Homo sapiens: one gene and its partner. The protein of the gene in region 2 interacts with the protein of the main gene of each other region in a pairwise test. Each region holds a gene or a part of one and is shown on either strand. Other genes may lie near its edges.

What was found. Proteins that work in one complex are often made in the same cells at the same time.
Region 1: the proteins of RIT2 (region 2) and RGL3 interact in a two-hybrid assay, tested with the Homo sapiens proteins (one large-scale study listed by BioGRID and IntAct).

Annotation. Positions count from the first base shown.
Region 1 is NC_000019.10:11,398,789-11,403,303, reverse strand, and holds part of RGL3 (ral guanine nucleotide dissociation stimulator-like 3), read left to right. Parts: intron 1-597; coding exon 598-654; intron 655-762; coding exon 763-849; intron 850-1,056; coding exon 1,057-1,089; intron 1,090-1,171; coding exon 1,172-1,293; intron 1,294-3,006; coding exon 3,007-3,102; intron 3,103-3,195; coding exon 3,196-3,264; intron 3,265-3,334; coding exon of another isoform or gene 3,335-3,352; coding exon 3,353-3,449; intron 3,450-4,515.
Region 2 is NC_000018.10:42,744,725-42,749,614, reverse strand, and holds part of RIT2 (GTP-binding protein Rit2), read left to right. Parts: intron 1-4,890.

The DNA.
Region 1 (4,515 bases), on a different chromosome or scaffold from region 2:
CAGCACTTTGGGAGGCCCAGGCAGGCGGATCACGAGGTCAGGAGATCGAGACCATCCTGGCTAACACAGTGAAACCCTGTCTCTACTAAAAATACAAAAAATTAGCTGGGCGAGGTGGGGGGCGCCTGTAGTCCCAGCTACTTGAGAGGCTGAGGCAGGAGAATGGCGTGAACCCCGGGGGGCGGAGCCTGCAGTGAGCCGAGATCGCGCCACTGCACTCCAGCCTGGGTGACAGAGCGACACTCCCTCTAGAGTGCAGCCTCTGCTTCTCAGGTTCAAGCTATCCTTCTGCCTCAGCCTCCCAAGTAGCTGGGACTACAGGTGTGAGCCACCATACCCGGCTAATTTTTGTATTTTTAGTAGAGACAGGGTTTCACCATATTGGCCAGGGTGGTCTGGAACTCCTGACCTCACATGATCTGCTCGCCTTGGCCTCCCAAAGTGCTGGGATTACAGGCGTGAGCCATCGCACCTGGCCTACCACTGACTTTTGATTACTCAAAGCATGAAGGGTATATATGATGGGTCTGCAGGCATCGTTCCTGAGGAATTGTCCAAGGAGACCCCAGACCTGGCTCAGTTTTTCTCTTCCCTCAGGAGGAGGCCACTGAGGGATCCCAAGAAGAGGACAACACCCCAGGCAGCCTGCCCTCAGTGAGTGATTACAGTTTGGGATGGGGACAAGTGGGACCTTCAGGGAGGGTTGTGGATGGTGATGGGGTCAGTAATGGCCCCAAGTGACTGGAGCTTTGGGGGCTGCAGAAACCACCCCCAGGCCCTGTCCCCTACCTTGGCACCTTCCTTACGGACCTGGTTATGCTGGACACAGCCCTGCCGGATATGTTGGAGGTCTGACCCCTGACCCTTGACCCCTGACCCCAGCTCCACTTGCCCCCAGCACAATGGGCCTCCCAATATCCACCCTTGATCCTACCTGTACTCCTGACACCACCCCACACTCCCTTACTACAGTGGGGCTCCTGACATCCCAGCCCCTGACCTTGACCCTTGACCCTTGACCCTGGGTGCTGCAATTCAGACACACTTTGCCCCCAGGGGGATCTCATTAACTTTGAGAAGAGGAGGAAGGTGAGTGGAGGCTACAGTGGGTGTGGTGGTGCCTGAGGGTGGGGGTGGGGCAGGGGTAGGGTCTTAGAGGCTCGTCCTCCAGGAGTGGGAGATCCTGGCCCGCATCCAGCAGCTGCAGAGGCGCTGTCAGAGCTACACCCTGAGCCCCCACCCGCCCATCCTGGCTGCCCTGCATGCCCAGAACCAGCTCACCGAGGAGCAGAGGTGACCACCCTGTAGCCTGTCCCAGCCCCACCCCAGCTGAGCCTGGGTCACCAACTGGATTCCACCCACTCCATACACACCTCCAGCTCCTCCCAAGACCCCCTCTTGAGCCCTGATCCCCCACTACAACCTGTGACCTTGCAGTATCTCCAGTCGAATCAAATAGACTGGGCCTGGTGGTTTACTCGTGTAATCCCAGCACTTGGGAGGCCAAGGTGGGTGGATCACTTGAGCCCAGGATTTCGAGACCAGCCTGGGCAACATGGCGAAACCCCATATCTACAAAAAAATACAAAAATTAGCTGAACGTGGCTGGGCACGGTGGCTCACACCTGTAATCCCAGCACTTTGGGAGGCCGAGGCGGGTGAATCACATGAGGTAAGGAGTTTGAGACCAGCCTGGCTAACAGAGTGAAACCCCGTCTCTACTAAAAATACAAAAAAAAAATTAGCCAGGTGTAGTGGCAGGCGCCTGTAGTCCCAGCTACTTGGGAGGCTGAGGCAGGAGAATGGCGTGAACCCGGGAGGCAGAGCTTGCAGGGAGCCGAGATGGTGCCACTGCACTCCAGCCTGGGCAACAGAGCGAGACTCCGTCTCAAAAAAAAAAAAAAAAAATTAGCTGAATGTGGTGTTGAGTGCCGTTGGTCCCAACTACTTGGGAGGCTGAGGTGGGAGGATTGCTGGAGCCTGGGAGGCAGAGGTTGGAGTGAGCCAAAATCACGCCACTGCAGTTCCAGTCTAGGTGACAGAGTGAGACCCTGTCTCAAAAAAAAAAAAAAAAAAATAGTCACAATTGACCTCTGACCTCAATTTCAACCCCATCTGATTTTCTGACCTCAACTTTAGCATTCAGCTGGCCATTCAACTCAACTGTCCCATCTGTTGACTTCCCCATCTTTGGTCCTATCTGACCCATGACCTTATTCATGACCCCTCATCTGACTCTCTGACCCCAACCCTTGACCCTCAGTTCTGAGTAACTGACTCCAACTTTTATGTTTGACTGTCCAGCTTGACTATGACAACTGTGTCCTTTCTTTCTATATAACTGTGACCCTAACCATTGACCCCAATGGTGACCTGACCCCAGTCTGACCCTGACTTTATTTTATTTATTTATTTATTTATTTATTTATTTATTTATTTATTTATTTTTGAGACAGAGTCTGGCTCTGTTTCCCAGGCTGGAGTGCAGTGGAGTGATCTCGGCTCACTGTAGCCCCCGCCTCCCAGGTTCAAGCAATTCTACTGCCTCAGCCTCCCCGGTAGCCGCAATTACAGGCGCGAGCTACCACACCTGGCTAATTTTTTTTGTATTTTTAGTAGAGACGGGGTTTCACTATATTGGCCAGGCTGGTTTCGAACTCTTGACCCGAAGCAATCCTCTCGCCTCAGCCTCCCAAAGTGCTAGGATTACAGGCGTGAGCCACTGCACCCAGTCCTGACCCTGACTTTAATCCTGACCCAATTTGATTCCTTAGTGCCACCCTGTGAATCTCTTTGTGACCTCCTGACCAGCCATCCTGTCCCATCTCTGATAAGACCTTGATGCTCAATGACCCTCATTTACCACCCTGACCCTGGCATGTGGGGTGCCACCTCTGGCTGCTCCCCCTTACACCCCAAACCCACCTCCCAACTGATTCCAACTCTTATCTCTCCATCCCCTGTATTTCCTGCCCCCACCACCTCATCCACATATTGACCCCTCAGCTACCGGCTCTCCCGGGTCATTGAGCCACCAGCTGCCTCCTGCCCCAGCTCCCCACGCATCCGACGGCGGATCAGCCTCACCAAGCGTCTCAGTGCGTGAGTCTCGGGGTGTGTGTAGGGGCGGTGATGTGGGCAGATATCAGCAAGGGCTGCTCCTGCCTTAGCCTCATCCCCTGTCCCCATCCTTAGGAAGCTTGCCCGAGAGAAAAGCTCATCACCTAGTGGGAGTCCCGGGGACCCCTCATCCCCCACCTCCAGGTGAGCATTCTGCTTGGTGATGGGACTGGGGATCATGGGATCAGGAGTCAGCACAGCCACCCCACCTCAGCCTCTGCATCTCCCCCAGTGTGTCCCCAGGGTCACCCCCCTCAAGTCCTAGAAGCAGAGATGCTCCTGCTGGCAGTCCCCCGGCCTCTCCAGGGCCCCAGGGCCCCAGCACCAAGGTACCAAGACGGCTTGTGTGTGCATGCGGGCCTGCGGGCACCCAGGCTCTGTGTGTGTGCACGTGTGTGTGCATGCACATGTGTACACACAGGATTGTGGGGCCAGGAGTGTATACAGGAGGCACACTGAGCGCCCGGGGTATCCATCCAGGGGATTGCATGCATCTGCACGGCCCTGTTTGGGTGATCACTCATAAATCCGACTCGTGCTCAGATTTGGACCTGTGTAACTGCTTGCCCATGGGTCATCTAGGGTGCAATCACATCACACCCCTTTTTATTTGAAACAGGGTCTTCTTGCTCTGTCACCCAGGCTGAAGTGCAGCGGTGCAATCTCAGCTCACCGCAACTTCCACCCCTCCCCCAGGCTCAAGCAATCCTTCCACCTCAGCCTCCCAAGTAGCTAGGACCACAGGTGTGCACCACCATGCCCTGCTATTTTTTTTATTTAGTAGAGATGAGGTTTCGCCATGTTGCCCAGGTGGGTTTCGAACTCCTGAGCTCAAACAATGCACTCACCTCGGCCTCCCAAAGTGCTGGGATTACAGGTGTGAGCCACCGCACCCAGCCTACACTTTTTTGAGGACATGTATGTCCCTAAGAATCTGCATACCATGGCAGACACGGTGGCTATTGCCTGTGATCCCGGCACTTTGGGAAGCCAAAGTGGGAGGATTGCTTGAGGCCGGGAGTTCAAGACCAGCCTGGGCAACATAGTGAGACCCTATTTCTATTAAAAGTCAAAAAAATTAGCTGGGTGTAGTCCCAGCTACTCAGCAGGCTGAGGTGGAAGGATCGCTTGAGTTTGAGGCTGCAGTGAGCTACGATCATGCCACGGCACTCTAGCCTGCATGATAGAGCGAGATCCTGTTTATGAAGAAAAAGAGACTGGGCACGGTGGCTCACGCCTGTAATCCCAGCACTCTGGGAGGCCGAGGTGGGCGGATCACGAGGTCAAGAGATCGAGACCATCCTGGCCAACGTGGTGAAACCCTGTCTCTACTGAAAATAGAAAAATTAGCTGGGTATGGTCGCGCACACCTGTAGTCCCAGCTACTTGGGAGGC
Region 2 (4,890 bases):
ATTGTTTATTTATGACTTATTTTTCTTCATCACCCTTAATCTGTCTTTCCTGGGCTTTATAAATTTTGACATCTTTATAAAAAGAATTCATGTTTGATTTCGTCTTCTCCATTGCATAATTGTTTTCTATTTTACTTACTTATCTGTTTATCATTTCCTTGTTTTTGCTTTCTTTAAATTAATTTGCTGAGCTTTCTGGTTACTTTTTGTGGTTAATATTTTGATCATTAAATTTGAGTGTTTATGCTTTTTAAAAACATGCTTGTAATGCTATAAGCATCATTATGAATAAAGCTAGAGATAGTCCTATAAGTTTTGATACAGTGCATTTTTATTAGCATTTCGTTTCAAATATTTTGAAAATGTTTTTATAATTTCTTCTTTGACCTATTGACTATTTAAATACATACTTTTTCTCAACTATTTGAGAATTTAGTAGAGTTTTTTAAATTTCTAGATCAATTTCATTTATTTTGGACTATGTTGTAATTTTTATTCTTTGCAATGTTTTGAGATTCACTTTAGGATAAAGTCAATTTTTATAAATGTTCCAAGTTAACTTGAAGAGAATCTGACTTTTTCATTTGTTAGCTATGACATGTTGTATATGTCAATTGGATCAATTGAGTTTGTTTTGTTCAAGTCCCCTATATCCTTACTGAATATTTGCCTATTAATTTTTTCTTTATTTCTTTACTTATTTTTATTTCAATAGGTTTTGAGGGAACAGTAGGTGTTTGGTTGCATGAAAAAGTTTTCTTGTGTTGATTTCTGAGATTTTGGTGCATTCATCACCCGAGTAGTGTACACTGGACCCAATGTGTAGCCTTTTATCCACCTACCTCCCTTTCCCCTGAGTCCCCAAAATCCATTGTATCTTTCTTATGCCTTTACATTATCATATCTTAGCTCCCACTTGTTTTCTGCGCTGGTTTCATGTTTTTGCATTTGTGAATTGTGCTGCTATAAATATGCATGTGCAAGTATCTTTTTCGTATAATGACTTATTTTCCTCTGGATAGATACCCAGTAGTGACATTGCTGGATCAACTGGTAGTTCTACTTTTAGTTCTTTACAGAATCTCCACACTGTTTTACATAGTGTTTGTACTAGTTTAAGTTCCCACCAGCAGTGTAAAAGTGTACCCTTTTAACCACATCCATGCTAACATCTATTATTGTTTGTTTTTTTTTGATAATGACCATTCGTGCAGGAGTAAGGTGGTATTGCATGTGGTTTTGATTTGTATTTCCCTGATCATTACTGATGTTGAGTATTTTTTCATATTTTTGTTGGTCATTTGTGTATCTTCTTTTGAGAATTGTCTATTCAGGTCCTTAGCCCACTTTTTGATGGGATTGTTTGTTTTTTTCTTGCGGATTTCTTTCAGTCTCTTGTAGATTGTGGATATTAGTCTTTTGTCAAATGTATAGACTCTGGAGATTTTCTTCCACTTTGCGGGTTTTCTTCCACTCTATGGGATTGCAAAGATTTTCTCCCACTCTGTGGGTTGTTCATTTACTCTGCTGATTGTTTATTTTGATGTGCAGAAACTTTTTAGTTTAATTAAGTCCCAAGTATTTATCTTTGTTTTTGTTGCATTTGCTTTTGGGTTCTTGCTTATGAAGTCTTTGCCTAAGCCAATGTCTAGAAGGATTTTTCCAGTGTTATCTTCTATAATTTTTATGTTTTCAGATCTTAGATTTAAGTCCTTTATCCATCTTGAGTTTGATTTTTGTATAAGGTGAGACATGAGGATGCAGTTTCATTCTTCTACGTGTGGCTTGCCAATTATCCTAACACCATTTGTTGAGTAGGGTGTCCTTTCCCCACTTTATGTTTTTGTTTGCTTTGTCAAAGATCTCTTGGCTGTTAGTATTTGGCTTTATTTCTGGGTTCTCTATTCTATTCCATTTATCTATATGCCTATATACCAGTACCATGCTGTTTTGGTGACTACAGCCTTATAGTATAGTTTCAATGTAACGTGATGCCTCCAGATTTCTTCTTTATGCTTAGTCTTTCTTTGGCTATGTGCTCTCCTTTTTGCTTCCATATGAATTTTAGGATTGTTTTTTCTAGTTCTGTGAAGAATGACGGTGGTGTTTTGATGGAAATTGCATTTATAGATTGCTTTTGGCAGCATGGTCATTTTCACAGTATTGATTCTACCCATCCACGAGCATGGGATGTGTTTTCATTTGTTTGTGTCGTCTATGATTTCTTTGAACAGTGTTCTGTAGTTTTCCTTGTAGAGGTCTTTCACTTCCTTGGTTTGGTATATTCTTAAGTATTTTATTTATTTATTTAGCAGCTATTGTAAAACAGGTTATCTTATTGATTTGATTATCAGCTTGGTCGCTGTTGGTATATAGCAGAGCTACTGATTCGTGTATATAAACTTTGTATCCTGTAATTTGCTGAATTCATTTATCTAGGAGCTTTTTGGAAGAGTCTTTAGGGTTTTCTAGGTATACAATTATATCATCAGGAAACTGCATCAGTTTTACTTCCTCTTCACCAGTTTGAATGTCCTTTATTTCTTTCTCTTGTCTGATTGTTCTGCCTAGGACTTCCAGTACTATGTTGAATAGGAGGGATAAGAGTGGCATCCTTGTCATGTTCATGTTCTCAGGGGAAATGCTTTCAACTTTTCCCCATTCAGTGCTACATCGGCTGTGAGTTTGTAATAGATAGCTTTTATTACAGTAAGGCAGGTCCCTTCTATGCCAATTTTTCTGAGGGTTTTAATCACAAAGGGATGCTGGATTTTGTCAAATGCTTTTTCTGCATCTATTGAGATTATCATGTTATTTTTGTTTTAAATTCTGTTTTTGTTATGTCCTTTCCTGGATTTGGTATTAGGGTTATACTGGCTTCAAATAATGATTTAGACAGGATTTCCTCTTTCTGTCTCTTGTGTACTAGTGTCAATAGGATTGTTACCAGTTCTTTCAATTGCTGAGAGAGACACATTAAAATATCTCACTAAACTTTTGGATTTTATTTTGTCAACTTTTAAAATTTAAACTGAGACTGTATTTTTAGTACATAAGAATTAATTAGTATAATGTCTTCCTTTATTATTATAAAATATTCCCCTTTTACTCAAATAATGCTCTATTTTTACTTACTGTCTACTTTGATATTTAAACTATAGCAGCTTTCTTCATGTGTAAATTTCCATTCAAATTTCACTTTCTATATCTTTACATGTAAGGTACTGCAACTGCAGGTGATTTTTGTAAAATCTGGTTGAACAGTCTTTGTCTTTTAAAGTTGGAGACTGTAATGCATTTATATTGACTGTGGTCAGTTGAATTATTCTTTTAAAATTCTGTGTTTTCTCTCCACTCTTGCCATGCTTCAATGTGAGTTGAGCATATGTCCTGCCTCATTGACTTTAGGTTTCTCCATGTGTCATTTGGGATATAGATAAAATAATTCCTGCCTCCTGTGCATCTGCTCTATATTATGGGAATATCATTTCCCAGATAAGAAGGGCTCTCTTAGCCTGAGTCCCAAAATAAGAGGATAAGAGGAATACACCAGAACCCACCTGACAGCCTGGAGCAGAGCTGCCAAAAATCTACTCCTTAGCTGCTAAAAAGCAGTCTAGCAACAAAACAAAGCAAAACAAAACAAAAAATATTTGCAAGCCACAAGGGCCTTTAGGCTGTATTAATATAAGTGTAACCTAATGAAAGCCAATAAATATAGAAAATAGTTCCAGAACTGTTGTATTGCTATACAAAATGTAAAATATGAGTCATTAGCTTCTGGGTGGGGAAAATTCTTACAGGTGACTGAAAAATAAATGGTAACCCACGTTATACAGTGTCATACCATTTGGTAAGATTACCACTTGTGATAACTTGAAAATCAGGGAAGTTACTTAATAAACATAACTTTGCTCAATTGCTGGCAAGTCAGAATGTTATTAGCTTTAGTTGATTGTTTTCGCTGCATTTCTTAAGTTATTTTAAGGTAGAAATGAGCTAAAAAAAATTGGCATGTTTACCAGTAGGAATGAAAAAAATAAAATAAGAGAGATAATCCAGACATGTTTTATCTCATAGGGTTAAAATGTGACAAGTTACTCATCTCTGTTTAACAGCTACTAGTGGGATCAGTGAGATCTAGTCAGACTAGAGTGAAGAACCTGTCTTTGCTGTCTTTGGGATCAGATAGACTTGATAGATTTTTTACACCCCAGCTCAGCCACTTATTAACCATATGATGTGTTGTAACAGTTTAAAAAGTTGGTTTCTGCCCTGATTACAAACAATTGCAAAATGTCAACAGCTTAAAATAATGAAGGTTTTTTTTCTTAGTTATGCCAGGTATCCAACATGAGTGAGCTGGGAGGTCTATTTATTATTCAGAGTCCTGGTAACTCAGGATTCTGGGGACTGATAATCTGGTAGGGCTTTATGGGATCACTAAATTTTGAGTAGGAATGTTAGTACCAGCTATAGGAACATAGAATCCACTGTGCTAATTTATGTATATAATTTATCTTTATATTTTAGTTAATACTTATTCAACCCTGGGTAATTTTGTTGATCATTCTTTAAACTCTTCTAATACTTCTAATGGTGATGTAGGCACCAGGAGCTGTAGTAGAAACTAAAGGAATGATAAGTGAGACAGACACGGTCCCTGGCCTCAGTCAGTTTATGATTTCTAGAGATCCATTACAACAGCATGAACCACAGCATGGGTAACTGCCACCAAAGACTTATGGAGTGTCAAACCTGCTCTGGAATACTTGGCTAGAGGGAGACTTATTTACCCATAATGGTGGTGTTTGCTTTTCATTTTCTTTTGATAGATTATTATTTTTTAATTTTATGACAACTCCATCTCTTCAACTTATTCTTCAGTGA